Linked DNA regions of Homo sapiens. The protein of the gene in region 1 binds, or shares a complex with, the protein of each later gene. Each region holds a gene or a part of one and is shown in the gene's direction. Other genes may lie near its edges.

Region 1 (3,941 bases):
GGTCTGCAGTGAGGCCCAAGGGTTTGTGTTTCTAACAAACTTCTGGGTGAGGCTGCTGGGGTTGGTATGGAAACTAGACTTTAGGAACCTCTGGTCTCTATTAGATGGTGATATACAAGATCCCTGCCACGTTATGGAAATATCCTCTCCTTTCACCAGGAGAACCTGGGGAATGACATGATTTGGCTTTGTGTCCCGACCCAAATCTCATCTTGAATTGGAATTCCATAATCCTCACGAGTCATGGGAGGGACCAGGTGGGAGGTAATTGAACATGGGGGTGGTTTTCCCCCCATCCTGTTCTCATGATAGTGAGTGAGTTCTCATGAAATCTGATGGTTTTATAAGAGGCTTCCCCCTTTGCCTGGCACTCATTGTCTCTCCTGCCACCCTGTGAAGAGGTACCTTCCATCATGATTGTAAGTTTCCTGAGGCCTCCCCTGCTATGCGAAAATGTGAGTCAATTAAACCTTTTTTCTTTATAAATTACCCAGTCTTGGGTATTTCTTCACAGCAGTGTGAGAACGGACCAATACAATTACTAACTTCTGGGTGACCTTGGGTGAGTCCCTTGCCTCCTCTGGGTTCAGTGTTCTCATCTGTACAGTAAGTGTTTCGATATGATGTTTTGTTCCCTAGATAAGCCCAAAGAAGAAGAGAGCAAGGAAGACAGTTGGGTAGACTGGGCCTGACTTCTGACTATAGAGACCTGTGTGACCTCAGGCAAGAGACTCAATCTCTCTGGGCTTCAAGTTATCTGTGAAATGGAAGAATGAAATTAGATGGTTTCTAAGTGTAAAGCTCACTGAATTAAAGGATTGAGGATGGTGGGGAGAGGTCGGTGGGGTTCTAAGGCTGATCAGACGATGAGGACATAGTCCTCCACCTGCCCAAGACTTTGAGGCCCAAAACACAGGTTTCTCTCCTTCTCTCCCTCCCTCCCCATCTCCCTCTCCCTTCACCTTCCCCTCCTCCCCATTACCTTCCTCCCTGCCCTCCCTTTTCTTCCTTTCTTTCTTCTCCTCCCTTCCCCTCTCTTCCCCTCCCCTGCCCTTCCCTTTTCTTTTTCTTTCTAAAAATATTATTTTAGGCAGTCGTAGGCAGTCTTGGCTTTGGAATCAGACAGACTCAGATCCAGCCATGGCTCGGTCAGCATGAGCTTGGCGCCCTGGGCAAAACGACTTCTGCTCTGTGGCCCTAGCATCCTCATGTGTAGAATGGGCAAGTGATGCCCCCCCGACGTGGGTGGTGGTTCACACGGCTTACTCCATGGAAGCACTTGGCACAGGGGCCCACATGGGCACTTCTGTTATTTCTTCAGTCTGGAGGCCAAGGGTGGGCCTCCGAGCCAGACAACATAGTTGGAATCCCAGCTCTGTCAGCTGCTGGCGGTGTGGTCTTGAGCAAGTGACTTAATCTCTCTGTACCCCAGTTTCCTTATTGGTAAGACTGGAGTAGTAATAATTCCTGTTATCTAGGGTTGCCGTGAAGAGTAAGTACGCATCGCCTAGCACGCTGCCTGGCTGTCGGTTGTTTTGATTATTCCACTAATGATGGTGACCACACAGCCGATGAACCAGGCACTTAGCGCCTGGTTAGGGCAGGGAACAGAATACAGTTCTTTCCCTACAGAGTTCCTGGTGCAAGGAGTTCTCGGTGCAAGGAGAGAGACATCTTAACAGGCAAGGACAGCACTGCATCAGTGAGGTGATGGGGTGACCCTGAGGGGCACAGCAGCCCCCGAGGGTTGGGGAAGGCTTCCCTGGGAGGTGACCTTCAACCTGAGACCTGAAGAGGCAGTAGGAGACCATCGGGCCACGAATTAGGGCAGGAATAGCATCCAGGTGGGAGGAACAGCGTTGCAAAGGCCCAGGGTGAGAGGCAGCCAATCTCTCGGTCAGTGTGGAGCTTGAGCCCCTCACCGGGAGCAGAGGCGCTTGCACTTCCCCCAGCAGCCGGGTGCTCAGATGTGCTCCCTGTTTGCGCTCAGTGGGCACGGCTCCCCGGCTGCAAGAGGCTGCCAGAGGGGCGGGTCGTCCCCAGCGGGCCCCCGCCGCCACCCACAAGCCCAGTCCCCGGCTGGTAGGGGCACCCTCCCCTCGCAGCCCCCTCTCCACGCAGCTAGCCGCCCCCGCCCTAGGTCAGCCCAGTTTCCTGCCCCTCCCTCCTGCTCTCCTCCCTCCAGCTGTTTCTCTGGCTGAGTTCTGTCCCAGTCCCATTCAGGGAAGCAGCCCCGGCGGCCAGCAGGGAGCTCAGGACAGAGCAGGCTCCCTGGGAAGCCTCCGGGTGATAGGGGTGTTCCAGCTGCGGCGCTCTGGGGGTTCAGAGGGGGATCTTGAATGAACAAATGAATGAACTGCTTTCTGGGCAAACAGCCACAGCCAGAGGAGCCTGTGATTGGCAGAAAGAAGCCAGGGTGTGCAAGTCTCCCCAACAGCCTCGAGTGGCCTGCAGTCACAGGGAACCCTCAGGAAGACCTTCCGGGCAGAGACCAGAGGGAAGGTATCATCACACACTTGCCTTGGGTGTCTTCTGAGGGGGGCCAGGGAAGGGGAATGAATACTAACAGAGAGAAAAGTTTGTTTCTTTTTATAATTTCATATTTGTTAAAAGGAAGAGTTTTGTTATTATTTTCAGATGTCAAAAGTAATGCATGTTCATTGTTTAAAGAAATAGCAAGGATACACAACTAAATATATGAATGTGGATTTCCACATCTAGTTTGGTAACCTGCTTAACCACAGATTGTGAACTTTTTTCCATATCACCTATATTCTTCCAATATACATTTTTCATGGCTGCATAGAAAGGCTATCTTAAGATTATTTGACTTTTCCATAATAGATTTGCTTCTTTTTTTTTATTAGAACAGTGCTGCAATGAATATTTAGTATGACATCTTTGTGTGTGTGTCTTATGAATACCTTTTAGAAATTGCTAGATTTAAGGTTTGCCTATTTTTAAGACTTCTGAGCTTTTGGTCACACTGCACCCTGGAAGGCCGTGGCAGCTTGACCTCTCTACGATGTTATACCAGGGCACAGTATTCTCACATACTAAACCCACCTTGTTGCTACCCATCCCTTAAACTTTCCCTGATGTGAAGTCGAGAATAATATCTAGATGCTTCAATAGGCATTTCATTTCTTTGTTAGTGTTGATTCTCTTTTATAAACTTATTTTTCACATTTCTAGTCTGACTCTCCTGTTCAAGTCTGTTCCCATTTTTTTCTCCTCTGGGGGCATGTTTATCTTTTTCCAATTGATATCTAAGGGTTCTTTGTATATAAAGGACACAAAACCTTTGCCGGCACTCTCTGTTGAAAATATTCCACTCCCTCCTCTGTCTTCAGAATAGCCCATTTTAAATGGGCAAGCCAGCTTTGGCAAAATTATAAGCATTACAACATCAGGGAACTACTACTTGATATAAGCCCAATCACTCAGACCTGTGCGGTTCAGAGATGCCAGATCACTGGTCTGAGGTCACACGCCTGAACGTCCAGGTTCTGAGTCTTTCTTTTTCTATTAGGGAAAGCCCTCAACTTCCCTTTTGCATCCCCTACCTCCTTCTCAAGACCAATCTTCTCTGTGGTTCTTGCTGTATCTCCTGCCCCTTCCAAACTGGTTTGAAGGTAAGATTCCTCTAAATGCCTTGGCTGCTGAGGTGAGTGTGACTGGGTCATTCAGGCCTCTGGTGCAGGAGGAGGCAGCTTGGCCTTTTCTTTAACCTAAACCAGTGGCACTCAAATGATGATGTGTCATACACTTGGGAGGTCCACAGGAGAGTTATCTCTTGATGCACAGGGGCCTTCTTTGGACTCCCCCAAAACTTCAGGGAACAGATAACCTTAACTTTGGGCAAGTCATGCCTTTCTCTGGCTTGACTTGTTCTGAGAAGTCCCCTACCCGCACTGGGTCAGGGCTTGTCTGCTAGGCTC
Region 2 (3,600 bases), on another chromosome or scaffold:
TGCTGAAAAATCAACTGATGAAAGGCAGATTAATAGAATAAATTGATTCATTTATATTTTAGAGACAAGGTCTTGCTCTGTCCAGAGAGGCTGAAGTACAGTTTCATGATCAGAGCTCACTGCACCTTTGAACTCCTGGGCTCAAGCAATCCTCCTGCCTCGGCTTTAACAGGAAATATTTATTAACATACATGAGAGAGAACCACAAAGTGATTACCCCAACCCCTCAGTGGGATACAGAAGCTTATCCACCATCTTGAGTTTATACAAATATGGGGGCTCAGATAGTGGCAAGACAGGTTATGGAAGGGAGGGAAGAGGAGGCCTGGTTGGCAAAGGGAGTCTTGTTAGGTAGATGACACCTCACAGGTAGCAGCCCTCAGAAAGAACTGAGGGTAAATGTTTCTTTCAGATCTGTAAAGGTGTCAGCCTCTCAGTTAATCTTTCCTAGAGTTAGACAAGGGAGAGCCTCGGAGAAAGCCTGGCTACATCAATGCAGATTTCCTCTACAGATGCAAATCTCTCCACAAAAAGACAGCTTTTTGGTTATTCTATTTCCAACCATTCTGAACAGCCACCTTGAAATGTGTCAAAGAAGTATTTTTTGGGGTGAAATATTTTGGTTTCCTTCAAGTTCTTGGGCTGGGAAACATCTTTGGGTGCATCTTTTCTCTCTAACCCCATCTAAAGCTTTCAGGGAACACGGATCCCATCTCTTTCTGCTTAAGGGCGGCTGAGTAGCTCACAGCTGGGGAGTGAAGTACCCTAAGTAGTGGTGGGATTTCAGACACCTGGAAGTGGTTAATGGAAGCCGAGTTTCTTTCTGGTGCCCCCAGAGCACACTGTAAAGGAAATTCTCAGCTCTAAGTGGAGAATCCTGGTTAGGGGTGCGTAAGTAGGGGACAAAAGCCTTGTGCTCGGCACTGGACATCAGTTGCTTTTCATGTTTCTTCATTTAATCCTCAAAACAACTCCTTAAGACAGAGTTTCTGATCCCCATCTTACAGATAAAGAAACAGAAGTTCAGAGAGAGCCATGAAGTTACATGAGATCCTCTACTTCAGGTGATCCCTGCGGTGTGGGAACCAGAGGCATGGTGTTGGTGGTTACTGACGTGCAAAGTCTCAGAGCTTCTTCATCCTTGCTCCAGCGTACCCAGGAGTCGAGCCGGTATTTGGACAGTTTTCCTTGAGTTTCTGCTCACCTTATGAATTCCATCATGCCGTTCTGCCACACCCGAAGGCTCCCCCACTCCCCATGAGAATCTATCCCACGGAGAATGGGGCACGAGGAATGGTCAGGAAAGGCAGATGCAGGATACACACTGGACATCTTTGCTGTCGATCAAGGTTGCAGGCGCCAGAGTCCTCCCTAAAGGAGAGACCTTCCTTCTCAGTGTGGCTCAGGGAGTGGGAGGCAGGATCAGGTGTAGGGACCTCGAGGTCTCATTTGGTTTGAGAATGTCTGTATTTAGGGGAAGAAATCCCAGGATGAGTGTCTCAGGGACGCTGGGGAATGGTCCCCCGTAAAGGACCCAAGACAGGGCAGCCCTGCCTGGGTAGGAGTGGGGCACAGAAAGTCCTTGGGGGAGCAGAGCAGCGGAGAAGAGGCCCGGGCCGGCCGAGGCTGCGGAATGCTCAGGCCCGAGCCAGAGGGAGGTGGGACCGAGGGCTGCGCGCCTGGGCGAGCCGCCTGCAGCCGCGGCCAGGGTCAGGGTCATGAGGGCTGGATCGAGGGGAAGGAGGGGGGTGGGATGGGGAGGGAGGGCGCGGGAGGGCATCCCGCCCCAGAGGCCGGTCCCACTGGGGAGGGGAGGAGCCAGAGTTGCTGGAGGGGGTCCAGGAGGTGGGGGTGGGAGGAGGTGGGGGCCGCCCCGCGAGAAGAAGAGCGGGAAGAGGCGGACAGCGAGGCCAAGATTTCAGCTGCGGGACGGTCAGGGGAGACCTCCAGGCGCAGGGAAGGACGTGAGGAGGGGAAGCGGGCTGGGGCGGCAGCCGGGCGGAGGGGCAGCTGCGCAGGCGGAATGAGGAACGCCTTTGCTCTAAGGCGACCACCCTGGCAGCTCTTCACTGAGGGGCCTCGGTTTCCACATCTGTCGCTCTCCGGTCCCAAGACCACCAGGACCGACGGGGCTCTCCGGGAGGGTCAGCCCCTCCGGTGGCCCCAGTCATGCATCAGGGGACGGATCAGAAGGGCTAGGAAGAGGGGTCGTGGGGAAGGCCCCAGAAAAAAGAGGAAGGAGGGAAGATTTTGCCTGAAGCGGGAAAGCCAAGGGCTGGGCGGCGCGAGACCCCCATTCCTAGCGACTGGGGCTGGCTGGTGGCCCGCGGCAGCCCCCGCGCCGGGAGGATTAGGCCTCCCGCCGCTCCCACCCGTCCGGACCCTCCCACGTGTTTAGGTCCTCCCAAAAGTATTCGGCCTCCGGCCCCTGCCCCTTCCCCCGGCTGGCCTGGACCTCGGGGACGTGGGGGGAACCCCGTGGGAGCAGGGGGATTCTGGACGGGGAGGGAGTAGCGGTTGGGGAGAAGGCTGAGCGGGGAAAGGAGAGAGGGGCTCCGGGGACGGCAGGGAGGAGAGTGGGTCGTGCCGGAGACCCAGGGAGAGACACAATGGGCAAGATTAGGGGTGTAGGGTGGGAGTGCGAACTGACTGATTCCTAGCGTGGGCAGGGAACTTTGCTAAAACTGCAGGCCCCAGGGAACAGCGCGGGCAGGGTGGGAGGGAACGGAGAGGGCCAGGCGGACCCTAAGGTCAATTTGGAGAAAGGGCCATTTCCAGGCTCCTTCACCTGTGCCCAGCGTTCTACAGGCCTGGACCCCGCCCCCGCTCCCCACCCTCCCCCCAGAGCAGGGCGCGGGAGGAGGCGGCTCGGGCTGGCTCGGAGAGCTGAGGGGCGCACACCCGCTTCGCAGGGCCAGGGTGACACGGAAGCATGCGACGGCTGCTGATCCCTCTGGCCCTGTGGCTGGGTGCGGTGGGCGTGGGCGTCGCCGAGCTCACGGAAGCCCAGCGCCGGGGCCTGCAGGTGGCCCTGGAGGAATTTCACAAGCACCCGCCCGTGCAGTGGGCCTTCCAGGAGACCAGTGTGGAGAGCGCCGTGGACACGGTGAGTAGCATGGCCCGGGCAGGAGCGGGGAGGGTCGTACCCCAGGAGACCAGCGCATTCCCACGAAGGGGGACAGAAGTGCTTGGGCTCTGAGCCCCAGCCCTTTGGAGAAAAGGCCACTGTCCAGCCTGCTGGAATGTGACTGCGTGAGGGAGGTGCGGATCACACCAGGGCTTGCTCTGCACCCTCAGCTGGCTACCGGCCATCCTCTGCCTGCCTGTCTGTCCGCAGCCCTTCCCAGCTGGAATATTTGTGAGGCTGGAATTTAAGCTGCAGCAGACAAGCTGCCGGAAGAGGGACTGGAAGAAACCCGAGTGCAAAGTCAGGCCCAATGGGGTGAGTGAAGGGGTGTGAGAGCAATGGGCGCATGCTGGGTGTGAGTGCATGGACTTGGGGTTTGGGGTGTGGGGCACATGCCTGGGTGTGCATGCATGAATTGGGAGGTCCATTAAGAAGCCCTGAGGTTAGAGACCCCACTGCGAAGAGCCTCCTTA

Evidence for each region. Proteins that work in one complex are often made in the same cells at the same time.
Region 2: the proteins of CMKLR1 (region 1) and RARRES2 are in contact, whole or in part, in a cryo-EM structure (PDB 8ZJG), measured with the Homo sapiens proteins. Residues at the interface, in NP_001135815.1 of Homo sapiens: Asp20, Tyr21, Leu22, Asp23, Ser24, Ile25, Val26, Val27, Leu28, Phe88, Leu92, His95, Tyr103, His104, Asn116, Leu119, Ile120, Met123, Arg178, Leu183, His184, Gly185, Lys186, Ser188, Cys189, Phe190, Asn191, Trp203, Thr205, His217; in NP_002880.1 of Homo sapiens: Leu34 (codon at 3,032), Phe37 (codon at 3,041), His38 (codon at 3,044), Phe60 (codon at 3,341), Thr75 (codon at 3,386), Ser76 (codon at 3,389), Cys77 (codon at 3,392), Arg96, Leu111, Gly112, Arg113, Leu114, Val115, His116, Cys117, Pro118, Ile119, Thr133, Leu136, Arg137, Gln139, Arg140, His146, Ser147, Phe148, Tyr149, Phe150, Pro151, Gly152, Gln153.

Annotation. Positions count from the first base shown.
Region 1 is NC_000012.12:108,337,588-108,341,528, reverse strand, and holds the start of CMKLR1 (chemerin-like receptor 1), read left to right. Parts: upstream 1-2,217; 5' UTR 2,218-2,502; intron 2,503-3,941. UniProt on the Homo sapiens protein: Receptor for the chemoattractant adipokine chemerin/RARRES2 and for the omega-3 fatty acid derived molecule resolvin E1.
Region 2 is NC_000007.14:150,339,942-150,343,541, reverse strand, and holds the start of RARRES2 (retinoic acid receptor responder protein 2 precursor), read left to right. Parts: upstream 1-1,912; 5' UTR 1,913-1,964; intron 1,965-2,912; 5' UTR 2,913-2,932; coding exon 2,933-3,106; intron 3,107-3,337; coding exon 3,338-3,442; intron 3,443-3,600. UniProt on the Homo sapiens protein: Adipocyte-secreted protein (adipokine) that regulates adipogenesis, metabolism and inflammation through activation of the chemokine-like receptor 1 (CMKLR1). Also acts as a ligand for CMKLR2.